Homo sapiens: one gene and its partners. The gene in region 6 interacts genetically with the main gene of each other region. Each region holds a gene or a part of one and is shown on either strand. Other genes may lie near its edges.

The links.
Region 1: changes in PTP4A3 (region 6) and SLC5A8 together harm fitness less than expected from each alone (positive genetic interaction), as found in Homo sapiens cells (one study listed by BioGRID).
Region 2: changes in PTP4A3 (region 6) and DEFA5 together harm fitness less than expected from each alone (positive genetic interaction), as found in Homo sapiens cells (one study listed by BioGRID).
Region 3: changes in PTP4A3 (region 6) and C2orf66 together harm fitness less than expected from each alone (positive genetic interaction), as found in Homo sapiens cells (one study listed by BioGRID).
Region 4: changes in PTP4A3 (region 6) and ZNF699 together harm fitness less than expected from each alone (positive genetic interaction), as found in Homo sapiens cells (one study listed by BioGRID).
Region 5: changes in PTP4A3 (region 6) and ABCD1 together harm fitness less than expected from each alone (positive genetic interaction), as found in Homo sapiens cells (one study listed by BioGRID).
Region 7: changes in PTP4A3 (region 6) and ZNF568 together harm fitness less than expected from each alone (positive genetic interaction), as found in Homo sapiens cells (one study listed by BioGRID).

What each region holds. Positions count from the first base shown.
Region 1 is NC_000012.12:101,207,439-101,211,374, forward strand, and holds the start of SLC5A8 (sodium-coupled monocarboxylate transporter 1), read right to left. Parts: upstream 2,801-3,936; 5' UTR 2,411-2,800; coding exon 2,060-2,410; intron 1-2,059. UniProt on the Homo sapiens protein: Acts as an electrogenic sodium (Na(+)) and chloride (Cl-)-dependent sodium-coupled solute transporter, including transport of monocarboxylates (short-chain fatty acids including L-lactate, D-lactate, pyruvate, acetate, propionate, valerate and butyrate), mocarboxylate drugs (nicotinate, benzoate, salicylate and 5-aminosalicylate) and ketone bodies (beta-D-hydroxybutyrate, acetoacetate and alpha-ketoisocaproate), with a Na(+):substrate stoichiometry of between 4:1 and 2:1.
Region 2 is NC_000008.11:7,054,804-7,058,189, forward strand, and holds DEFA5 (defensin alpha 5 preproprotein), read right to left. Parts: upstream 1,937-3,386; 5' UTR 1,895-1,936; coding exon 1,723-1,894; intron 741-1,722; coding exon 628-740; 3' UTR 501-627; downstream 1-500. UniProt on the Homo sapiens protein: Host-defense peptide that maintains sterility in the urogenital system.
Region 3 is NC_000002.12:196,806,556-196,810,664, reverse strand, and holds the start of C2orf66 (uncharacterized protein C2orf66 precursor), read left to right. Parts: upstream 1-1,309; 5' UTR 1,310-1,316; coding exon of another isoform or gene 1,317-1,328; coding exon 1,329-1,451; intron 1,452-3,042; coding exon 3,043-3,222; 3' UTR 3,223-3,241; intron 3,242-4,109.
Region 4 is NC_000019.10:9,299,839-9,303,338, forward strand, and holds part of ZNF699 (zinc finger protein 699), read right to left. Parts: intron 2,667-3,500; coding exon 2,540-2,666; intron 1-2,539. UniProt on the Homo sapiens protein: May be involved in transcriptional regulation.
Region 5 is NC_000023.11:153,731,356-153,734,855, reverse strand, and holds part of ABCD1 (ATP-binding cassette sub-family D member 1), read right to left. Parts: intron 5-3,500; exon of another isoform or gene 1-4. UniProt on the Homo sapiens protein: ATP-dependent transporter of the ATP-binding cassette (ABC) family involved in the transport of very long chain fatty acid (VLCFA)-CoA from the cytosol to the peroxisome lumen.
Region 6 is NC_000008.11:141,395,021-141,398,520, forward strand, and holds part of PTP4A3 (protein tyrosine phosphatase type IVA 3), read left to right. Parts: intron 1-3,500. UniProt on the Homo sapiens protein: Protein tyrosine phosphatase which stimulates progression from G1 into S phase during mitosis. Enhances cell proliferation, cell motility and invasive activity, and promotes cancer metastasis.
Region 7 is NC_000019.10:36,922,832-36,926,331, reverse strand, and holds part of ZNF568 (zinc finger protein 568), read right to left. Parts: coding exon 3,486-3,500; intron 1,133-3,485; coding exon 1,074-1,132; intron 1-1,073. UniProt on the Homo sapiens protein: Has transcriptional repression activity, partially through the recruitment of the corepressor TRIM28 but also has repression activity independently of this interaction.

The DNA of each region.
Region 1 (3,936 bases), on a different chromosome or scaffold from region 6:
CCAGTGCCTGGCATGTGTTCAGCATTCAATGAACTTTTGCTTTTTGACATTTTTAGCTGGAACCCCTGCTAACTTAGCCTCTACCACTGCAAGCATGAGGGAAATCTGTTTCTGCTTGAGTTAATGTTGTAGCCCCGAAGAGGCATGGGTCAGTGGTTATGAGAGCAGCATTCATGTGTGGGGACTGAAGTCCTCCTGCCAGATTCTTCAAACCCTTTCCAAGTTTGGGAATTGGTTAGCTATAGATCACAGCTCACAGACTCAGATGCCTCCAGGTTCCATCAGGTAACATACATAAGTGACAGTGGCCAGGTGTTCACATATTAACATGTTGGAATATTCCTCCCACCCACTAAGATATATGTTTTCTTACATCTCCCTGGAAACAAGAGATCCCTTTACCCCTGTCCATTTTGCCTTTCACATTTTTTGATAAAGACATAAATGCAGATAAAAATTTCTCTACCAAAAAAACAGTAACCATGAAAACACAAAGATAAGACTTCAATATAGAAGTTTAATAGAGAGTGAGAGCAATAGCTATAAACTTGAGTTCCTGTGGCCACAGGGAGCATGGGCCCAGTGTTACCAGCCTTTTGAGTTCTCGAAAGAAGTCATAGTCTGAAATTATATTTTATTTCTTCTCACTATAAGGAGAAGTAAAAAAAAAAAATGACTGAGAAGTGAATTTGGTCTGGGGAATTTCGCCAGTTTGTCACTTCTGAGCAAACCTGAGAAACTGCATCCTGCTCACTTCTGGGATAATTATTGAGCTCTCCCAAACACAGCCCCAGAGTGAATGGAAGGCAATGCTGCCCAGGGGTGCCTCGCCCTGGAAGATGTCACTAGAGCCCAGGCAGAGTGTGTCACCAATGTTTGTTGTGCCGTTAAGGCCCTGTCCCCAGCACCAGTTGAACCAGCCTCACTAGGAAACCACCTGCCAGAATCTCAGGATTGGAGTCCTCTGGGTAATGGCCTAATAGAGAGGAAACTTCTGCAGGCTTGTCCCATGTAGCTCAAGGACCAGTGCTGGGTGAGGGAGACCACTGAAGGCACTGAACTGGGCCCCGCCACTCCCCTGAGCTTTGATCCCGCCCCCACCTCCCATTCAACAGCTCTTTAAACTAAACGTGCATCATCTTTTCAAAGCCCTTTCTTGCAGACAACTTGAGAAAACCTATAGCCAGGGGACCTGTGCAATAGAGGAAAGACAGTTTTCCTTAATTGTCTTTCCATAGAGAAGGCAGAGCTGTTTGAGAACCTTGCTGCCTAATTTTCCTACTGATCCCAAGATAACTACCACCATCACAACTAGCACCACCACAGTAATTATGGCCAATACCTATCTGGCACTTACTCTGTGTCAAACTCTATTCTAAATGCTACACCTTGCATCATCTCATTTAATCCTCCCAACTGGATGAGGTAGGTGATATTATTTTATTTTTGAGGAATAGGCACAAAAGGTTGGGTAAGTCACCCAAGGTCACCCAGCTAGTAAGTGGTAGAATCTGGTCCGAAATACAGGTACTGGTACACCTTAGCCACTTGGGTGCCTGTTTCAGTGGAAAGGGGGTGGGTGTGGAAGGGGAAGGAAGGGGAGTACAAATTCTTTACCAACTATCTTGGAAGAGTGAATGGGGCTGAGGACCTGGAACAAGAGTATTCCTTTCAAGAAGCAGGGCCTGAGACCTGAAGAACTTACCTTCCCCAAAAATCTTTCCCCTTGCCTGGGAATCAAAGATGCTAAAGGTAGAAAGGACCATAGCGAGCACTACTGTTGCAATCCGTTCACTTTGGAAGCCTCTTTTTTTCACTAAGCCCAGGAGAGTAAATCCCAAGAATTTTTTCACCCTTAGAGGACGCCTCTCAGTAGAAGGGAAAGATGCCAGGTGAAGATCGGGGGACGGGGAGGAGTGAAGGGAGGGTGATGATGACGATGGACGGGGAGAGATTTCGATGTGGCAGTGACAGTCTGCCCCCAAGAAAACGCCTCCAGAGGTCTGCAGAGTCCCCTTCCCCCGCGCCCTGCATGGTCCCAGCCCACCCTGCCCCTTACCTCGTAGGTGCTGGTAATTCCCAGTTTGTAGAACACCGGGAGGAAGACCTCCGCGCTGATGACCACCACAAAGAAGTAGGTGAAGGCAAAGATGCTAAAAATGGCCCCAAAACGGTAGACCTCGGAGGGGGTGCCCAGGACAGTGACGGCTGACATGAAGCTAGCGGTGAGGGACAGCGCCACGGGCACTGCGGTCATTCTGCGGCCGCCCATCAGGAAGTCCTTGGAGGTCTGCTGGCCGCCCCCAGCGAAGGCGTAGTAGATGCCGATGGCGGCCGAGATGACCAGCATGCCCGCGAACACCACGTAGTCCCACACCACGAAGGTGCCGATGCCCCGTGGCGTGTCCATGGCCGCACGGTCGCCTGAGCCCTGCGCGCAAACTGGTGGCCCCGCGGCGCGCAGCCGGAGCCCGGCGCGCACTTCTTATCCCGGATCCCTGGCGCGCAGGCGTGGCGTCCCGCGGGGACTGGAGGCGTCCTCCAGGTGTCGGCCTCCGAACGCACCCCGAGGCGGGGTGAGGGCTGGCAGTCGCCCCTGCACCCGCCGCTGCGAGCCGCGCCCCTCAAACCCAGGTATGGGACCTCGGAAAATCGACCCGCTGCCCTGAGTGCTCACCACGTGAGGAACTGGAGTGGCCGAGTTCGCCAAGGCGCCGGGGACACCTGAGCAGATGAGAACTGGAGCCTCCAGCTGCTTCCAGCGAATCTACACAGGGAGCGCTCTGGGCAGGTTTTGTTCAAGTGGTACCCGAGGGGACGCACCATTTAAATAAGCAGGCGACCGGTGGAGGAATGTGGGACAAAGGGCAATTGTCACGCCTTGAATTTTAGCTTTCCAGTTCAACAGTCCGGGTCCTTACGGAAAGGGACGCCTGGAGTTTTTAGACTGCCTTATTTGATAGGTTAATGGGTGACAGTAGATTAATGCAGGTGACAATCTGTAGTGAACAGAGATCACAGTCCTTAGACAGGTCATCGATCGTAAAGGAGAGCAGGAAATCTGTGCTACTGTTTCCTTGTGTTTTTACTCAACAAACGTTTCTGAGCCCCTTCAGCCTGTTGTTGGAAATAGTAGTTATTGGAAGATTAACAATAATATCCGCTTTTTAATGAGCCTTCATGTGACACATACATGCTTGGCACGTTTTATATTAGTCAGTGTAATTCTTTTGGTGAACCAGTGTAATTCTCATTACCCTTGAGATAGGCATTTTCAAATGCAGAAATTACTGTCGAATGATTAAGTCACTTGCCCAATCAACTGGCAGAGATTAAGATCTTTAATCTAGGTCTGATTTCAGAGTTTGCTCTCTTAATCACAATGTGTAGATACGTGTTATAGGTAGGCAAAATGTGTACACTTAAATGAAGACACTTGAAAACACTGAAGAAAAGATCATTTCCAGCATCACCACTCAGGACATATTTTAAGTGGCTTGTCTTGAAATACTATTAACACATGAATCACACTCAAATAATATGATTCTCAGGTTTTCCTTCTAAAATAGACGCTCCAGCCAAATGTGCTCAGCTATCAATCCATTTCAGGCAGTCCTTGTTCATTTGTATACAACTTTATAATATACCATCTGGTCCTAGGTAAACAATCCACAGAATGCATTTAGTCTAGCCTAGTGTATGATAAAAAAGCTATATCAGATTTTATTTTTTGTAAACTGATGTTATTTGTATAATATTTTCAGAAGGAAATAAAGAGGGAAATAGAAACTAAATCCAAGTAATTCAATTGGTTAAACAAATATGTGGTTTGGAATTACGTCCTACCAGTGTGAAATGTACTATATTTATATATTACATATGATGTTATACATACTTATATATAATACATAAATTATATGTGTATATTATATAACT
Region 2 (3,386 bases), about 130 Mb from region 6:
CCTGTCAGGAATGGTGGCTCAAGCATGTAATCCTAGCACTTTGGGGGGCTGAGGAGAGCAGATCACTTAAGCTCAGGGGTTCGAGACCAACCTGGGCAATATGGTGAAACCCTGTCTCTACAAAAAAATACAAACCATTAGTAGGGTGTGGTGGCACATGCCTGTAGTCCCAGCTACTCAAGAGGCTGAGGTGGGAGGATCATTTGAGCACAGGAGGTCAAGGCTGCAGTGAGCCGAGATTGCACCGCTGTACTCCAGCTTGGGTGGCTAAGTTAGACACTGTCTCAAACAACAACAATAAAAAACCCAATTATATTCATTTTTGTTATTTTGTTATTGCTCTATGATGCTCAAATTGTGCATCATTGGAATGCAAAGACCAGTTAACTTAATGTAGATCAGAATTCTCAATACAAAGGAACCATACAAACCACCATATAACAAAGCAAAAGAAAAAAAAGGAAAAAGAAAAGAAAATTAAAAAGGTCAAACACACTAAGTTTAATGCTTGAACTTTATTTTGGAGAGAGAAATTTAGAAAGACACAAGGTACACAGAGTAAAATGTTTTTCTTTTTTCAGGACCTTGAACTGAATCTTGCACTGCTTTGGTTTCTATCTAGGAAGCTCAGCGACAGCAGAGTCTGTAGAGGCGGCCACTGATTTCACACACCCCGGAGAGGGACTCACGGGTAGCACAACGGCCGGTTCGGCAATAGCAGGTGGCTCTTGCCTGAGAACCTGTGGAAAGAAGAGAGGGTCAGGCACAGCGAGGGAGGTGGGAAAAAGGACAAGCACAGCCAGACTAACTGAGATAGTCTAAATAAGAGACACTGTATCAGTCATGTTAGGATGGAGAAAATTCATGTCTTTGTCGTAAGTGACAAGAAATCTTACTAGCTATGTGTTAGTCATGCAAGATCATAGTTTTTTTCCCCATGTGAGTCTATCCAGGATGTATTTATTACCTGCTCCCTGGTCCAACAATATACCTCTCAACCTCAGGGTTACCTACTCTTCATTCTGCTTCATCCACACGCCTAATCTTGACCTCCATGTGTGATTTCCAGGTCCTAACAAGGCTCCCTAAAGCACCTGAATCAGTTTCTGAAATGCCGCATTGTGCATGCTAATGTCATGGACCAAATACTTTGGTGCTCAAGGAGTCTTTGAAGACTTTCCAAATTCAAATTCTTCATTCTCTGTCTCTCCTTTTTTTTTTTTTTTTTTTTTTTTTAACATTTTACATATTTACTTGTTTTAATTGACAAACAATAATTGTGTATATGTATGAGACACAATATGATGTTTTGATCTAAGGATGTATTGTAGAAAGATTTAATCAAGCCTATTAGCCTACATCAAAACACACCTATAGGTTCCTCTCTAGGTTCTAAAAGCTTTTCCAATGGACAAAGTAAAACACTCTCTATATAACTAAGTCTGCCCATTTAGATCTACAAAGAACTAGTCAGTGTAGCTCTTTCTATCTTAAAAGTAGCAAATTTCACAGAAATATCTTGGAACTGAAAGTCTTAGAAAAAAGAAAATCTTTTAGATTTATTTGGTTCTCACTGATTAATTTATAGATGAGAAAATCAAGGTCCAGGAAGATTAAGTAAAGTCACTCAAGTGAGGTAGACCTTTCCACACTTGACTCCAGATCCTTTCTCCAATCCTTTTTTTCTAGATTTTGCAGATGTGCAAGATTGATGTCTCCTACCTGAGGTTCTAAGAGCAGAGAGTCCATTTCCTGCAAAGGAGATAGCAAGGTCCTGGTTGTCTTCCCCAGACTGCTTCTGGGTTGTAGCCTCATCAGCTCTTTCCTGGAGTGACTCAGCCTGGGCCTGCAGGGCCACCAGGAGAATGGCAGCAAGGATGGCGATGGTCCTCATGGCTGGGGTCACCTGCAGGAGGGAGAGCAGGAGTGGATATGTGGGGAGTGAGGAGTCAGCCTGGATTTATAGCTCTGCTGGGAGAAGACCTGAGACAGAAGCTGCAGTGAGAGGAGGTGGGCATGTGATTGGGAGGGGAAGGACTGCCTTTGTTCTCAAGATCCCTTTGATGCTCCTCTTTCTCCCAGCTTTCATCAAAGCGTGAGTCTGTATGCTTAATGCCTCTTCTTGATCCAAGGTGTTAATGATGATAAGGGTATTACTATCCTGTTCTGTTTCCCATCTGCTTGAGTATTTACTTTTATATATTCAAAAAAGAAAAACAACAGCGCTTTCATTCAAGAAGTTTGGGGATCAAATGCCTCTTGTTTTCTGAAGATGGTCCCTGGTACTCTCTGGATGACTCTCTGGGGGCAGACCTGGGACTCAGTGGAGTAGAGAGTTAATTCATTGCAGGATTCAGGGATATTACTAACCTCATGTAGGAGGCTTTTGAGATCTCGAGGTGAGTAGTCTCCCGCTGGTGCCAGTATGGAGAGGTCAATGACCTTATCAGGCTATAGGGGAAATGAGTTCAGTAAAATAGTAGGCCAAGTTTATCAGATTAAAATAAAAATTCGGATTTAGTTCAAGGAGTTGGTGTGATCTGAATGCATCACATAAAATGTGTAGCGGGTACTTCTCTCCACTTTGGGGAATATCAAAGTAATTTAGGTGCGTACAGCCCCTTTCTGAGATTTTTTTTTTAGTTTTAGAAAATTGTAAATCATGCACAAGGAACAACATTCAAAAGGTAGAAGTCATGAGCTCTCATTTCTACCCCCAGGCCTTCAGTTCTGACCCAGCAAACCATCACTATTAACAGTTACACATAGTATTCTGCACTTCGCTTTTTTCACCTGTAACATTGGCACTTTGTATATCAAAATACATGGAATGCTATTATAATTTTAATAGCCTTATACTATCCCAGGGTTTGTATATGCCATCACTTATTTTTTGTACTGATAAAATATTATAAAATTATTACAATTTGGTTATTTTTAAACTTTTGCAGTAATAAGTAAAGTTACAGTGATTATCTTGTATATATGTTCTCTTACCTATATGGATAAACTTATAGAAATAGAATTGCTGTGTCAAAGAATGCATCTTAAGCCAGCATGGTGGTACATGCCTATATTTCTAGCTATTTGAGAGGCTGAGGTGGGAGGATCACTGGAGACCAGGAGTTCGATACCAGCCTAAAAACATAGTGAGACCCCTTTCTCTTAAAAAAAAAAAAAGAGACTATATCTTACACATTTTTAAGATATTACTACATATTTCCATAATATCACCATATTTGATCCAAATCCTTTGGGGCTCAGTGGGCCCTTGGAGAGTCTCTATATTTGAATTCCTCATTTAATTTTTTTCAAATTTATTTATTTATTCATTGAAAAATAATTTTCTGTATATTTGTAGGGTATGATGTGACGTTTGGATTGAT
Region 3 (4,109 bases), on a different chromosome or scaffold from region 6:
CACCAGCCTTCTGAATAAATATCTTGTCCTAAATTTTGTTCTAAATCATTGGAACCAAAGCAACGTCACAACTCAAGTCCAATTTCTCGGCCTACCATTTTCTACAGATGGCATTTATTCAGCAAGGGAATGTTGTAGGTATAGTAATTTATCTTTTTTCCATGAAACATGTGTTATCTTCTTGCTCTATTTTGAAGAGATATTATGATAAATGATGCCACTATTTAAAACTTGTAAAGCTTCTTGAGGTTCTCAGAAAAAAGTACAAGGTATAGGTCAAAAAGAGTAATTTTGTCTCTCACAAAAGAATTTTCTGTTCAAAAAATGCTGTTAACTTGAAAAAGTCATATCTCCAAAAGAACGTTCTAATAGGTGGGATAATCATCATCATATTTCCAGCTATAATCCATCATATTTCCAGGTGTATCCCTTCCCTTAAAAGTAAAAAAGGAGAAAATCACTTTGCTGTGTGGAAGTGCTTTGTGTGTTTTATAAAATCCACATAAAATGTTCGTGGTTCAAGGAGTGGCTGCCGCATTTCTAAGGCAAATAAGCTTATCCCTGAAGAAGCTTGAAGATCTGACTCTCAAGAATCTTTGTGTTCTGGATGAAAAAGGAATCATTATTTTTTAACTCCCCTGCTCAAGTCAGTGACTTCCACTGGCACCCAATCCATTGGTTATAAGTACCCATGAATTGCCTTGCCAATTATAGGCAGGATAACCTAGGAGGACCAACCAAAACCAAACTCCTGGTAAGCTTTATTAGCCTTTTCTACAATGTGTCTCAGTTTCTCTTTCACACCTTGGAGTGGAAGACAATCTCTACTCACACTGTTGTGGTATGTGTCTGTCTGTCTCAGATGTGTGTATAAGGTGTATTTCTCAGCTCGGTATCTGAAGTAATTTCTTTTTCTTTTCTTTTTTTTAAAGACTGCTGTCTTAAGGCTTAAAAGTAATTTAAGGTTTTGTTTTTTGTTATTTTAAGAGTTGCAGTTTCTTTGGAGACAACAAAGTACTTTTTTTCCAAAGATGAAAAAGGCATATTCAGACTTTCTATGTTATGTTCCATAATTGTTTTGCTTATCACTGTATAACATTCTCATTATCATGGGCTACTTTAAGCTAATCAGTTGCATTTTGGGGTCCTCATTTAGAAGTCAATCTGGAAAAAAGATGGCTGTAAAACTTAGATAAACCAGTATGCTATTTCTCCTTCCTTGTCTGCCTTTACAGATGTTTCCTCTTTCTCTCTCTCTTCCCTGACTATCTCTCTCAATGATCATTGACAGCTCCCGCATCCCCTCTTTCACTCAGCTTCACTCCACCATGACCAGAGCACCTCTCCTGCTACTATGTGTTGCCCTGGTGCTGCTTGGGCATGTGAATGGAGCCACAGTAAGAAATGAGGACAAATGGAAGCCACTCAACAACCCCAGAAACAGAGATCTGGTAAGAACACACTTGGGGCCTGGGTTTCAGGATAGAACTAATGCCTCTTTGGATTTACGCACACAGCATTCTGTTTTCCAGAACGTAGTGGAAAGGGGGCTACCAAGGGTTGAGAAAATTCTCCAACAGGATTGGACCAGAGTTTTACTACCCTAGTGGTTGGCAACCTATTGTTTCTCTGGCCAGTTTACATTTGTTTCTGTAAAGAGAAACAAATTTATATTTAGAAACAATCTTATACACACATAGTACAATTCATTTGTAACTGATCTTATATACACATTGACTTTGTAGCCTTGATTTCTAATACATATAAAAAATAAAGAGTGTAACAGGGAATTGCTCGTGCATAGCTTAGATTGAACTGATGATAAAACAAGTTATCATATAACTAGAGATTGCCAAGCTCAGCTGCAAAAATTGAAAGTTGACCCTGCATGGGTATCAATTTACTGGACATATTTTCAACATATAGTTATCTATAAAATAGAATTCAAAAGATCAGTAAACATTCTCTTTAAAAAAAATGCCAAATACAATAAACATGTTGACATGACTATTTTGAAATATGGTTTTTCTAAAGTGAATGATGGGAAATATAACAACATAGGATTAAAATAAACTGAGATAAGAGACCAGCAGGATTTGTTTTCTGGTCACAGCTGCTGACGAAAACAGGATCTGGTCCAGACAGGATAAAGTGAAAACACTGGGTGAAACCAGCAGATGGCAACAAAAGTGGTCCCGACCTGCTCTCATTGCTCTTAGGATATGATCCTCCCCTCAGTGCCATGACAGTTTACAAATGTCATGGCAATTACCTGGAAGCTACCACTCCTTTCCATGGCAATGACCCAAAAGTTACCACCTCTTTCCTAGAAAGCTCTAAATAACTCCCTTCTGTTTGCATTAACCCATCCCTTAATTTGCATATATTCAAAAGTGGATAAAAACACAGTTGATAAGAGCCCATATGTTGTCAGCCCTAGGTGCACTACCTATGAATTAGCCTTGTTCTGGCAGGAGCAGTACCTTTCAATAAAAGATTGTTACCACAACCAGCCTGCCCTTAAATTCTTTTCTGGGCAAAGCCAAGAACCCTCCTGTGCTAAGCTCCAGTTTTGGGATTTGCCTGTCCTGCATCAAAGCAAGTAGCACTTCGCACATCTTCTGTGTTCATTTCCTAATGGAAATCTGAAAAGAAACTATTGCAGAAGGCAACAACAGAGATCTCATATTAAGGAAGAGGAGATACTGAGCTGCTTATTATGGAGTTCATTTTCACCTTTGACCTTAGTACTCAGAGATAGTTCACAATGAATCTTTCCACTGTGGTGCCGCTCCATAGTCTTCCTTCAATTTTCAGTAAGAATGGTGAATTATTTTGGTTAGGGTTGAAATGTCAGAAAGAAGGTACAGAGGAGGGGAGGAGAAGTAGCTGAAGCATGTACTTGTATTTCTAGATTTTGTATTTCCTGCCTCTTAGATTAGCCTTAAAGTCAATTCAGGGGAAAAATAGAGGGAAGAAAAACACCTTTATTTTTGGTGTTTCATTTATATCTGGCATTGACCATTTTCTTTCTCTCTTTAGTTTTTCAGAAGGCTTCAGGCATATTTTAAGGGCAGAGGTCTTGATCTTGGAACATTTCCAAATCCTTTCCCCACGAATGAAAATCCTAGACCTCTCTCTTTCCAGTCAGAACTTACTGCTTCTGCATCTGCAGATTATGAAGAGCAGAAAAACTCCTTTCACAATTATCTCAAAGGCTGAAAGTTTCTTCTGAGCTCAGGTAAAAGTTGGCCCTTTATTCTGGATCTGTCCAAACATACAAGTCAGCCATAAAGTAGATATTTTGAAAGTATTTATTTGAAAACATAATTTTATTTCCTCATAGAAATAAATGCTCAGTTCTGCTTATACTCATTACTATTAAGTATTTGGATTTGGTTCAGGTATTTTACAGTCTTGTTTTAAAAAGAAATGACAGTTTTTATTTTTTAAGCATAGTTATCCAGGCAGAGACATATTAAAATAATAGAATTATCTCTTAATAGGATTATTAAATTAATAACATGGCCACACTCTTACCTGTATCTTTTTCCAGACCAACTGATATAGCTAAGTTATGTGGAAAATCTACATAAAGAAATATGTCAAATTGAGCTGTTGGATTAGATGGGAATTAAAAGTTGAAAGTATGGTTCTTTGGGGGATAAAGTATTATGCATATATTTGAGCTTGAACTTCCTCACCTATAGGAAGAAAAGGTTGACTATTAGTAAGGATGGCATTTTTCTCATAGAAAAAAATTAAAAATTTATTAAGATTTGAATTTCATTACTTTTTTTGTTGTTGTTGAGGTAGAGTCTCACTGTGTCGCCCAGGCTGGAGTGCAATGGTGTGATCTTGGCTCACTGCACCCTCCACCTCCTGGGTTCAAAGGATTCTTCTGCCTCAGCCTCCTGAGTAGCTGGGATTACAGGTGCCTGCCACCACACTCAGATAATTTTTGTATTTTTTTTTTTTAGTAGAGACAGGGTTTCACCATATTGGCCAGGCTGGTCTCGAACTCCTGACCTCGTGATCCACCTGCCTCAGCCTCCCAAAGTGCTGGGATTACAGGCATGAGCCACCACACCCAGCGAATTTCATTACTC
Region 4 (3,500 bases), on a different chromosome or scaffold from region 6:
AAGAACTCTTAAAACTCAACAATGTTTAAAAAAAAAAAAGACAAAAAAATGAGCCAAAGACCTTTACAGACACCTCACCAAAGAACATATACAGATGGCAAATAAGCATATGAAAAGATGCTCAACATCATAAGTCATCAGGGAAATGCAAATTAAAACAAGGCACCACTACACACCTGTTAGAATGGCCAAAATCCTGAACATTCACAACAACAAATGCTGGTGAGGATGAGGAGCAACAGGAACTCTCATTCATTGCTGGCTGGAATGCTCGCTCTGTCGCCCAGGCTGGAGTGCAGTGGTGTGATCTCAGCTCACTGCAAGCTCTGCCTCCCAGGTTCACACCATTCTCCTGCCTCAGCCTCCCGAGTAGCTGGGACTACAGGTGCCCGCCAACACACCCGGCTAATTTTTTGTATTTTTAGTACAGATGGAGTTTCACCCTGTTAGCCAGGATGGTCTCGATCTCCTGACCTCGTGATCCACCCGCCTCGGCCTCCCAAAGTACTAGGATTACAGGCATGAGCCACCGCGCCCGGCTGGCAGTTTCTTATAAAATTAAACATCCTCTTACCATAAAATCCAGCAACTGAATTGCACTCCTTTTACCCAAAGGAGTTGAAAACTTAAGTCCACATAAAAACCTGCACACCAATGTTCATAGTAGCTTTATTTGTAACTGCCAAAACGTGTAAGCAACCAAGAAGTCCTTCAGTAGGTGAATGGATAAACCGTGGTACATCCAGACAATAGAATATTAGTCAGAGGTACAAAGAAATGAGCTCTCAAGCTATGAAAAGACATGGAGGAATCTTAAATGTATATTGCTAAGTGAAAGAAGCCAATCTGAAAAGGCTACATACTGCATGATTCCAACTATATGACATTTTGCAGAAGGCAACATCATTATGGAGACAGAAAGATCAGTAGTTGCCAAGATTTAAGAGGGAGGGAAGGAGGGATGAATTGATAGAGCACACAGGATTTTTACAGCAGTGAAACTATTCTGTATGATATTATAATGGTGGATACATGTCATTATATATTCTTCCAAACTCATAGAATGTACAATACCAAGAGTGAACCCTAATGTAAATGATGGACTCTGGGCAATGATGACGTGTCAATGTAGCTTCATCAGTTATAACAAATTTACCACTCTGGTGGGGGATGTTGTTATTAGAGGAGGCTATGCATGTGGGAGCCAGAGGTTATACGGGAAATCTCTGTACCTTCCACTCAATTCAGCTGTGAACCTAAAATTGCTCTAAAAATAATAATAAAGCCTACAAAAAAAAAAGAGAGAGAGAGAGAGAGAGAGAGAAGTCCACCCAGAACCTCAAAATGTTACCTTATTTAGAAATAGGGTCTTTACAGATATAATCAAGACAAGGTTATACTGGATTAGGATGGGCCCTAAATCCAATGACTGGTGTCCTTATAAGGAGACAGAGACTTAGACACACAGGCAAGAAGGAGAAGGCAGAGAATGGAATGATGCATCTGTAAGTCAAGGAATGCCAATGATTGCCAGCAATCACCAGAAGCCAGGAAGAGAAAAGGGAGTCTTTCCCCCAGAGCCTTCAGAGAGAACATGGCCCTGCTGATCCCTTGATTTCAGATACCCAGCCTCCAGAAATGCTGTGAAGGAAAAAATTTCCGTTGTTTTTAGCCACCAGTGTGTGATACTCTGCTACAGAAGGTCTAGGAAACTAATACAGCCTGCTTCCATAGACCCATCCCCAAATCACTCAACTGAAGCACAAATCCTGTAATAGGTCTTTTCTAACACCATCTTACTAGGACATGTAAGAGGCATGTATTCTTGCTTGCTGCACTGCAAAATAAACCCAACTTGTTTAACTATAAGTGTGTTCTGGTAGTCTTTGGGTAAAGGACACAGATAGCAGTAAAATCCTCAAAATGTTCAAACTACAAACCTCCTCCCTGTGTCCTATAGTGATTGCTGAGGTTTATACCCACACTTTCGATACTTAATAAACCTCAAGGCTTTCAACCACGAAAAAAAGCATCAGTTCAATATACAGATGTTTATTTTCTTTTTTCTTTTTTTTTTTTTTGAGATGGAGTTTCACTCTTGTTGCCCAGGCTGGAGTGCAATGGAGCGATCTTGGCTCACCGTAACCTCCACCTCCTGGGTTCAAGCCATTCTCCTGCCTCAGCCTCCCAAGTAGCTGGGATTACAAGCATGCACCACCACGCCTGGCTAATTTTGTGTTTTTAGTAGAGACGGGGTTTCTCCATGTTGGTCAGGCTGGTATCGAACTCCTGACCTCAGGTGATCCACCCGCCTTAGCCTCCCAAAATGCTGGGATTACAGGCATGAGCACTGCGCCCGGCCCAGGTGTTTATTTTCATAGCAAAGCCACTAGACTGTAAGTTCCTTGGGGTCAGTGACCATATCTGTCTTACTTACCAATGTCTTCCCATTCCTCAGCCCAAATCCTAGAATAAAGTCAATTTAGTGAGATAAAATAACTTTCTAAACAACTACATGAAAGAATCTTGCCATTCTTACCTAGTGAGGCCAGGTTCTGGAAGTTTTCCAGCATCACATCTCTGTAGAGGTTTCTCTGAGCAAGATCCAGCAAAGCCCATTCCTCCTGGGTAAAGTCCACAGCCACATCCTCAAAGACTACTGAGTCCTAAAACATACCACAAATTCTGTTCAGAAAGGTACAATTCCTCCAATGTGTACAAGAGGACAGATGAGGCTCACAACATCGAGGAAATGAGAGTCAATTCATAGGAAGTTCAGAAGATCCCAGCATCTACTCTAGGGCTCAGTCAACAAATCTCTCTCTCTTTCTATCCACACATAATTCATCACTGATCAAATCCTGGCTTATAGATTTAATACTTCTAAAACACTAAATTGCCAGGCAAATTGGGTCAAGCCTATAATCCCAGCACTTTGGGGAGCCAAAGCAGGAGGACTACTTGAGCCCAGGAGTTCAAGACCAGCCTAGGCAACAGAACATAGTGAGAATCAGTCTCTACTAAAATTTTTTTAAAAAATAGCTGGGCGTGGTGGCATGTGCCTATGGTGGCAGCTACTCCGGAGGCTGAGGTGGGTGGGAGGATTGCTTGAGCCACAAGGTTGAGGCTGCAGTGAGCACGACCATGCCACTGCACTCTAGCCTGGACAAAAAAAAACAAAAACAAAAACAAAAAAACATTAAATTTATCTCCCCACAATCTGATGCCAATGAGCTAGGAAAAAACAAAGTGTTTTTCCTACCCTCTTACATAGTCACTCAATACTGTACAGAACACTTCTGACACCAGATGTGTGGGGGATATTTTCCACAAACACCAAGCAATTCCCCAGTGGACACCAGCTGGGTATCCTACAACTTGCTTCTGATACTATCTACCTGGAGATTCCACAGGTTGGAGATTCCACAGGAGGTCCCACTAAACTGCCTCCCACTTCAGATGCCAATCCCAAGTTAAAAGGCTGTCAATTATACTTCTGA
Region 5 (3,500 bases), on a different chromosome or scaffold from region 6:
GTGATGATGGCTGCACAACTCTGTGAATGAATTTAAACTGTACATGGAAAAGGAAGAATTGTATAGTATGTTAATTACGTCTCAATAACGTTGATTTTTAAATGCACCAGTAGGCATCTGGTTTTGTTTCTACGTACAGCCAGCTCCTTCCACCGGCCCTCTGTCCTGCACCACTGATGTCGCCCCTCCTGGGGCACATCTGAACTTTGTCATCCAACGCCCAGAGCTGTTTGGCTTTGAAACGCCAACTTTCTTTTTTTTTTCTTTTCTTTTTTTTGAGATGGAGTCTTGCTCTGTTGCCCAGGCTGGAGTGCAGTGGTGTGATCTTGGCTCACTGCAACCTCTGCCTCCCCAGGTTCAAGGGATTCTTGTGCCTCAGCCTCCCGAGTAGCTGGGATTACAGGCACCCGCCACCAAGCCCAGCGAATTTTTTTTGTATTTTTAGTAGAGACGAAGTCTCACCATGTTGGCCAGGCTGGTCTCAAACTCCTGAACTCAGGTGATCCACTTGCCTTGGCCTCCAAAGATGCTGGGATTGCAGGCATGGGCCACCACGCCCGGCCTAATGTCCCACTTCCTGACCGCCCCCTCTAGGCCATGGTTTTTGACCTCTGGGCCAGCAGCCGTATTGTTTGGTGTCTGCTTCTCCCAGGAGCTGCTCCTGTCTTAATTTGCTTTTCTGTCACACTCTAGGCCCCGTGGCAGCACCCCTGACCCTCATCAATGGCCTTGACTCTCAGTTTCTTGATCCTTAGATTCCCCACAGGAGCAGAGGTGGGGAGCAAGGGCGAAGGCCGCCTCTGAGGGTGCTGGGGTGTGGCTGAAGTGGTGGGAATGTCCTGTGAAGGACCCGAGGACTGTATCCAGGGGTGGGTGTGATCCTGAGGGGGAAGCCTCAGGGATCATTGGCTGGGGGCTGGGGGAAGACACGGAACGCAGTATCCGCTCAGGGCCATGCAGGGTGGAAAGGGGCCTGGCCCGGGAAACCAGGGAACTAGATTGGGCTGGCGGGGCGGGGATGTGAATCCTAAAGGTCGAAGGCCTTGGACCTTCCTTCCCACGGTGCTCTCAAGGACACAGCCCTCCTCCCCAGGTGTTCTGAGAGCTGGACAGTCGCTGTGGACAAAGGGAAGGGTCTGCAAGTCTTTGTGCCCAGGGCATCCTGGCGTAGAACCAGCTGCCTTCTGCAGGTTCTCTTGGAGCCTTGGGTGAATAAGGCCAGGGCCCCAGAGCTGGACAGAGCAAGGCCTCAGGGCTGGAGTGGGAGCCACAGGCCCTGCCCATCTCCTGAGCCCACCTGCCTTGCACACCAGCCCAGCAAAGCTTATCTAAATCTTCCAACCGGTAAGAGCCTGCCTTCCCACCCAGTGCGCTCCACCTCCTTGAAGCACCTGGAGCCCTCACTAGCCACCCGATGCAGGGGACACAGCAGGGACAAAACAGACAAAAATCCCTGACCCCATGGAGCTTGCAGTCCATGGCAGGGAGAGAGAAAAGCGCCACTGACGGGGTGTCGAGTGCTTGGGAGAGCAGTGGGGCAGGGAAGGAGACAGGAAAGGTGGCGGTGGGCAGGCCGGGCCTTGCCTAGGGGGGCTGCGCCATGGGGCAGCAGAGGAAAGAGTGCTCCTGGCACAGGCCCCAAGACAGAGCAGGCCTGGCATTTGGGGAAATAAGAAGGCCACAGGACCAGGCACAGTGGCTCACACCTATAATCCCAGCACTTTGGGAGGCCGAGGCAGGTGGATCACTTGAGGTCAGGAGTTCAAGACCAGCCTGACCAACATGGCGAAACCCCATCTCTACTAAAAACACAAAAATTAGCCAGGCATGGTGGCGTGTACCTGTAGTCCCAGCTACTTGGGAGGCTGAGGCAGGAGAATCACTTGAACCCGGGAGATGGAGGTTGCAGTGAGCCAAGATCGTGCCACTGCACTCCAGCCTGGGAGACAGAGTGAGACTCCATCTCAAAAGCTCCCCCTCCAAAAAAAAACAGACGGCCACAGGACAGAGCCTATCAAGCCAGGGGAAAGGGAATGCTTCACAGCCTTCAAAGGCTGCTGGCTCTGAGGACCACCAGAGCAGGGCCAGGAGCCCACAAAGCCTGGCACAGCAGAGGCTCAGAAAAGTCCTAAGCCTTCAGGGCAGGGAGCAGCCCGATGTGACCAATGGCAGCCATGGAGCGAAGCGGCTGCAGGTGCTGTCTCGCGGGCTGTCTCGGTGCCCGGGGCTAGGTGCGCTGACTGGGCTGGGCACCTACGCCAGCATCAAGGCTGCCCTTGATGTGCAGTCCCCGAATTAGATCCTTCCTCTTGGTGAGTCACCCAGAGGATGACACAGACAGTTGAGGGCATGGAAGCCCCGAGGTGGAAACAGGAACAGGGAGAGAATCAGACTTCTGTTTATAAATCGAAAACCCTCTTCCCACCAAACTGGGTAAACTACGACACTATTTCGAGCAGAGCCAAGCTTGACGGAAAGCAAGGGAAACTTCTGGGAGCAAAGAGAAGCAGACAGCCAGGTGATCCTTTGATAGCCCCAGAGGCAGGCAGGGCAAAGACCAGGAAGCTTTCCTTGCTTAGCCTGGGCTCTATGCCCAATGAACAAAAAGCCTCCTCTGAAAATTTGTAACAATGTGCCTGGAGTTCAAATGAATTCAAATGAAACCACCTCTCAATTCAGGAACCATCCCCTCCGCACTAACTAATGGCCTCCAACTGCTTACCCTGGAGTGCTTGGCCAAAACAGAAGGACATTTGGACTTACACCCTCCATTGAGGCCACACCAATCCCCATAGAAGTTCTGTTGCAAAACCCACAAGGAAATGATCCACCATGAGTGAAGACCAGCAGACAGAAGACAGGCGAATGATACTCCCAAGAACTGAAGCTAACCAAACCATCAGATAGAGACGGTGGGGTAAGTATGACTAACCTGATACACAGTATAAAAGGAGCAGTCAAAAAGATGAGCAAATAAGACACAGAAACAGCCTGACATTTCTACTTGAAAAAGGAAATGTCCATTTTCAAATTCCTATTTGAAATAGAATGAAATAGAACTTACAAAACAGCCACTGAAATGTGAACAAAATTCCAATTAGACATGGCCAAAGAGAAAACTGGTGAACTGGAAAATGAGCAAACAGGAAGGCCTCAGGGCATCCCCAGAATTCAGCACAGACAGTGTGAGATGGGAAACAGTAAACAGAAACCGAAAGACACAACGAAGAGAGTCAGAAGTCCAGCACTGGCTGCCAGTTCTAGAAGAACAGGAAAAAAGAATGAGAGTCAGGCAATATCTGAAAAGCTAATAGCTGAGAATCTTCCAGAATGATTGAAAAACTCAAATATTCAAAGGACATATAACAAGTCTCAAGCAGAATCAACAAAAACTGACACCTAAACATGTCATAGTGAAACTGCAGAATGCCAAAAAGAAAGAAAGTGATCAAAGTACCCAGAAAAAAAGAAACACAGGGTACTCAGGGAGGACAATTTGT
Region 6 (3,500 bases):
ACGGGTGCTTCCTTCCACCCAGGAGCCTGAGCAGAGGGTGGAGGGTCCTGGCAGCTACCTACGGCAGCTGAGAGCTGCGCTCTTTAGCCGAGCGGGATCAGGGCTACGTGGACACAGCCCGTGCCAGTGTGGGTGGGGCACGAGCTGTGGGTTCCGATGGCCCAGTAGGCGTTCACCTGGCAGAGAGTGTGCGCGTGTCTCCCCTCCTTGGGGCGCCTCAGGTCAGGACCCTGAGAACCTCACTTATCCTTTGAGCTGCGCCAAGGCTGTTGTACAAAAGACAGTTCAGAAAATAAGGACAGGCTGTTCCTCCCAGCCAAGGGTGTGGCCCTAAGGACCCCTAGGTGGGGCATCGCTTCCCGCCAGGCACGTGCCACTCAGTCTTGGGCTGCTTTAGTGGCAGCCTCCTGGTTTGGAAGCGGAACTGAGGGTCAGGGATGACCACATGGCTCAGGGCTCAGCTGGGGTCCTGAGAGTGGGCCCTCAGGTTTACCTTCCTCCTGGAGGGGAACTGGGGGCCATTGCCCAGTGCACCCCCACTTCCCCTTAGGTGCGTGGGCCACCCCTCCCTCCTGCAGCCCCCGTTCATCTACCCAGGATAGGTGCATGGGCCACCCCTCCCTCCTGCAGCCCCCGTTCATCTACCTGGGGAAGGTGCGTGGGCCACCCCTCCCTCCTGCAGCCCCCGTTCATCTACCCGGGGTAGGTGCGTGGGCCACCCCTCCCTCCTGCAGCCCCCGTTCATCTACCCAGTGGGGATGTCCCCTGGCTCCTCTCCTGGCATCTTCCCGGGATGTAGGGGTGCTCCCATGCCCCCCGGCTCCTCTCCTGGTGTCTTCCCCAGATGTAGGGGTGCCCTCATGTCAGGGCTTATGCTTCTAGAAGGAGTGGAAATGCAGCACAGTCATTGCTGTTGCCTGCCAAGGGCCACCCTGGCTGGGGACAGATGGGGCTGCCTCCCCTCTCCCACCCTGTCCTGGCCACCTGCCCCCGCCAACCCTGCCACTGGCTCAGAGGAAGCAGGCCTAACCTGATGTGTAACCCCCACCCCTGCCGTGACTGTAACCCCGTGCCATGTGAAGGTGGGGCTCCTTGGCAGTGCCTGGTGATTGCGGTACAGCCAGAACCGGCCCCATTATCTGGGCTGTGGGTGCCATTGGTCAGGACCGTGATGGACTCATACGTAAAACTTGATGCATTTTAACTCCCTTCATCCTAGAGGATTGAGACCTCTGGCGGGTAAGTGTTCATATTACCGTCCTGCCCTAGAGCCAGGGAAGGACCCTAGGGGAGAAGTGACGTGCCAGGGTCACTGCTGGGAGGAGAGCAGGAATTTGAACGCTGGCCATGCCTCCTTTTTGGGGAAAGGTCAGTAAATGGGCAGGGGAGGGTGCTGGTCATTTGGGTGATGGTGCCAGTGGGGTGAGCAGCTCCAGGTCATCAGGTGGTATGGAATCTGGCCCCGGGCAGCCCGTCCAGCATTCCTCTCTCACCGAGCCCACAGCCCTGGAGCACCTACTGTGTGCCTGCTCTGGCCCACTGGGAACAGGACAGTCCCGAGCCCTGCCCCGAGGAGCTGGCGCCAAGTGGAGCAGCTGCACCACAGGCACACGGGGGACAAAGGGCACCGCTGATGATTTGGCCAGGAAGAGATGAGGTGGGGATGGGGGCTACAGGGTGGGGAGACGGTGGCCTCGGGAAGGGCTAGCTTGGCCACGCCAGCTTGGTCATGTCACCTTCTGAGTCTCAGTGTTCCCTTCTCACGTGGGACAAGACCACGCATAACCCGAGGGGCTGCATGTGTGGAGCCGACAAGCTGACGTGCGGGTCCTGAGTGCACTGAGCCCGCTGGGGTTCCAGACACAGTGGATGAACGATCCAGGGAAGGAAACAGCCTGGGCTGTGCTCTCTGGGACCTGCCCTTGAGCCAGGTACTCCTGTGGGAGGGTAGCCGGGCTGGCTGGGGGCCTGGAGCCCACAGCCTCTCCTCCCTTGCTGTTTTCCCGGCCAGGGAGGAAGCCAGGCTGGAAGACCCCAGAGGGCTAGGGGGATGAACACAGGTTGATCTGTGTTGAATTTGGCTCTAGCCACCTCCTCAGGGCCAGAGCGGCTCCTGGAGCCGGAGTGAGAGCTGTGTTACACGCAGGGAAGCCGGGGCTCGGGGAAGGTGGCTGCCAGGGTGTGCAGGGCTGTGCCAACCTCATCCTGGTGGGTCCCTGTGACAACAGGACAGGCTGCCTGCCCATTGTACAATGAGAGGCTGATGCTCTGTCACTTCATGAGGTCACACAGGCTCCAGGCAGTGGGGGGCTCTCTGAAGGAGGTCCCAGTGACCTGAATGGAGCCCCCGGGTGGGCTGAAACTTCTGCCTGTAAGGCCTGTCCTGGGTTGGGGTTGGGTGGGAGAGGGCAGGAGTCCTGCTGGGAAGGGCCTCTGCCATGCCCAGCTCCTACCACAAGTACAGAACAATGACAACTCCGCCACCTGGCTGCCCCACGCTGGGCACATGCTCCCCGCTGGCCTCAGTTGGGAGTCCAGTGAGTCAGGAGGTGAAGGTGGGGTGCACGTCCCCTGCAGACCCTCACAAGGCAGGTGGCGGGGCGGGTATTGGTCATGAGAACCCTGCCTTGGGGCCTGAGTGCCTCGGTGGCTGTGGAGCCTGGTTTCGACCTCTTTGGGACCAGTGTTCTTGTCCATAAAAGGCAGTGATCTTTCTGGATAGTTCAGAGAGATTCTGTTATCTTTGCCCATCAGAGCTGGAAGGGAGTTGAACAAAATGTTTTGCAGAAATTGGACCTGAGTTGGGCATTGCTCCTCCTGCTGCCCCTGGTTCTGAGGGCTTGGCACCACTAGCCCGCTCTCTGTCCAGGGTCGGCCCGGCTCCTGCCTTTATCATGTGTGAGCCTCGCTGTGTGTGGCTCAGTCCTGGACGGGCCGAGACCTGGATGCAGGACCCTGGACAGTCAGCGCAGGCGGAGCAGGGAGGGAGGCGTCTGCCTGAGGCCTGCTTGGAGGTGCCCAGGCTGGAGCCCTTGGCCCTGGAAGATGTGGTCAGGGCCCAGTGGTGTTGGGATGGCCAAGAAGAGGGCCCCTGTGCCTTCTGCCCAGGGCTTGGCCTAGCCAGTGCTCAGGGTTTATTTGCTGGATGAGGGGTGGAGTGGGCCAGTGGGGCCCAGGTCTCCTGCTAGGTGACCCTCAGAGGTGGGCATAACATCCCTTGGAGTCTCTGCTCTGCACTTGCCAATAAGAGGCTGGACCATTTGAGTGGTTATAAGTTGGGAAGCACTCCCTGATTGCTTGGTTCTGCTTGAGGCACAGCCTCCAACTCCCAGAGATTCCAGCACCCCTGCAGGAGCCAGCGTTGCTGATGTGGGCAGACGGGCGTCTGGGAACACCCCAGACTCAGCATACTAGGGTTCAAGTCCCTGACTCCCATCCTGGGGCATGGAGTGGCAGGAACCAGGGAATGTTCTAGAGTGAGGTGGTGAGGTGGAGCAGGG
Region 7 (3,500 bases), on a different chromosome or scaffold from region 6:
AGACATAAGCTGAAGAAAAAGAGGCAGTTAAGCAGAAAACATTCAAAATATAGGTGTGTGAGTGACTTCAGAGGTGGAAACAAAAAGAATCAAGAGCAGAGAATACGTAATTTTGTAAGATGAGGATGAAGACTATATCTTCTGAGACCATAAAAAAGATGTGAAAAGCTATGGATATCAGAACTATAAGATTCTGCCATAGAATATTAGTATAATTTAGCTCAACTTGGATTAAAAACTCAATTGAAGAAAATATATACGTAGGATCATTTGAAAGATATGTGTTCCACTTACTCTTCCAGGTAATTTGAATTTTTGAAGTTTGGCCAAGACCAACTTCTAAAAGCTAAGCTAAAAATTGTAAGAATTAAGGAATTACAGTCGTCCCTAGGAAACCATGTAGAATTGGTTCCAGGACCCCCCACGGATACCAAAATCCACTGATGCTCAAGTCCCTTATATAAAATGGTGTAGGATTTGTACGTAACCAATGTACGTCCTCCCGTATACTTTAAATCGTCCCTAGATTACTTATAAAACCTAATATAATGTGATTTCTATGTAAATAGTTGTTACACTATGTTGTTTAGAAAACGACAAGAAAAAAGTCTGTACATGTTCAGTACAGATACAACCACCCATTTTTTTTTCAAGTATTTTTGATTTGCAGTTGGTTCAATCTATGGATGCAGAATCTACAGATACAGAAGTCCAACTATATTTTAGAGTTTCTTTTTGAACAAGGTGCCAGTTAAAAGCCTTTTACTTAAATAATTGTAAGTTTTTCCTCATAAATGGTGCAACTTATGGACTTACGGAATAAACTTAAGTGTCCCAGTTTGCTTTGACTGTCCAGATCATATTTAAATTTGAACTCAACTTTAATAATTCTGTATGTACCTGCTTCTGCATAGCCATATCTCAAATTTCCCCAGGTTCTGATTTTCTATCTGTATTTTTTCTCACTTTTATTTTCATCAATTTATTTTTTCCAACACATTGGTAGGTTACAAGAACCCACCGTAACTGCACTGCAAAATAATGCAGGAAACAAATAAATGCTTAAGACGTACAAGAGGCCTGGTTGTATCCTCTTCTTCCTCGGAAAGGGCAGACTCTTGAGAACACCAAGCTGAGGGAAGAGAAATGAAACAGATTTGCTTCAAAGTTTCAGACAAAGGAATATAGAAATCTTCAGTACCAGGTGGCTAGAAGACCCTCTACAGATGAATGATCCTTGAAGCAATAAGAAATGTTAACTGCCATCTAGCTATAGACACTGAAATGGACACAGATGGCTAATTTAATCATATGGGGTCTGATGGGGATTTATGGAGGGCTAAGTATGCAGTGCCCAATGAATCTATTGGCAATATTTTATCTCCCTAGAATCTTGCTGTTTTATTTCTAACAGGAAGTTTATCTTAAGTACATAATAATAGTTACCCCAAAAATTTAAAGATTGGGATGATCTTTAAAATTTTTTTTTCTTTTTTTTTTTGAGATGGAGTCTCACTCTGCCGTCCAGGCTGGAGTGCAGTGGCCTGATCTCTGCTTACTGCAACCTCTGCCTCCCAGGTTCAAGCGATTCTCCTGCCTCAGCCTCCCACGTAGCTGGGATTATAGGCATCCACCACCATGCCTGGCTAACTTTTTTGTATTTTTAGTAGAGAAGGGGTTTCACCATGTTGGCCAGGCTGGTTTCGAACTCCTGACCTCAAGGGATCCATTTGCCTCGGCCTCCCAAAGTGCTGGGATTACAGGCGTGACGCCGCGCCTGGCCTAAAATGTTATTTTTTAACCATAAAAAATTTAGGGCCAGGCGCGGTCGTCACGCCTGTAATCCCAGCACTTTGGGAGGCCAAGGCGGGCGGATCACGAGGTCAGGAGTTCGAGACCAGCTTGGCCAATATGGCGAAACCCTGTCTCTACTAAAAATACAAAAATTCGCTGGGCGTAGTGGCGTGCGCCTGTAGTCCCAGCTACTTGGGAGGCTGAGGCAGGAGAATCGCTTGAACCCGGAAAGTGCAGGTTGCAGTGAGCCGAGATCACACCACTGCACTCCAGCCTGGGCGACAGAGCGAGACTCTGTCTCCCCCTCAAAAAAAATAATTTAGAAAAAAACCTTCATCAGAGACTGGCTATAGGTAATGTGGAACATTGATAAGATAGGATGCAATACAGTCATGTTTCTAATGACATTTTTAAAAAACTTGATTTATTTTTTACCCTAAAAAATTCAGGGCCTTTTGGTTAAAAATAAAAGCCTGAATACCTGCATTTATTAATATTTCCACTCTCTCCCAAACCAATCATAATGTTAATAAAGGAAAAAAGGAGGCTAAAACTCATAAGGACAAAGAATATAGAAGATTTCCACAGATAAGAGCTGTCAACAAAATGTGGGAAGCTAAAGAGCAGACAAATGAGTGGTATCTAACTTAACCAGAGAAAGCTGAAGCTTAAGTGAAGGTGGGAGGAGGGTGGGGAAGCCATGACAAGACCCTAGAAAGGTTCAGGAATGGAGCTACTAATTACTTCTGTGGACTAGAGTTTGGGAGTAGGGCTGAAAAACATAAAACCGAATGTAAGATGTCATAAAAAGATGTTAAAACCACCTGATGTTTTCTTTCACCCAACATGGCATAGTCACATTTCCCTCACATTGGCAACAGAAAAAAATTAAAGATTATTTCTCTAGATAAACTGAATGAGACAAGCTCTGAATTTCAGGCATACCAGATGCAGATAAAGGTGGGGTTGAAGCAATGCAGAGAGAAAAGAATTAAAGTTCTCATATTGCAAGATGAGGTGTCCAACATGCTCACTTCCTTCGTCTCCCAAAAAGCAGGAGTTCTGGCTTGTACTTCTCAAGCAAAATCTAGGACTTCTTGCTGGGGAAACTGACTAGCCCAAAAGAAAATGCTTACAGATGCTGACATCTGGTCAACCTTCAACCTCCAAAAAATAATACCATATTAGAAAGAAGGGCAAGGAGAAGAGTGTGTTGGGGTGGAGATGAAACGGAAGGGGTTAGGTAGTGAAAGAGAGCTAAATCCTTAACTTCATTATCAAAAATCAACAGGAAATATCTAAAACTGAGAAATGAAGCATTAGCAGTGTAAGAATGTTATTTAGAAAAAAGGAGGTGAATACCAGAATATTGAGACAAAAATGTTCAAAGTGGTTGCCTTTCAGGAATGGGGACAGGGAACCAGGATGGATGGAATAGGAAGCTTTTGTTTATGTTATAGTACAGCATTTAAAGATATACTTAAACATACTCTTAAGAAATAAAAATTGCATTTCAAAATTTATTTTAAAAAATCAAATAGTCAAATGAATATGATTAAAAACAAATGTCTCCCCTGCCTAGTCAATTAACATACGTGACCTTTCTCAGTAGGAGTAATGAATTTCTTTTCACTGTCCCCAAATGTAGAGCCTTTCTCTCCTAAGCTCTGTCCACCTATGAGCCACCTCACCTTTCCTTTCCATCA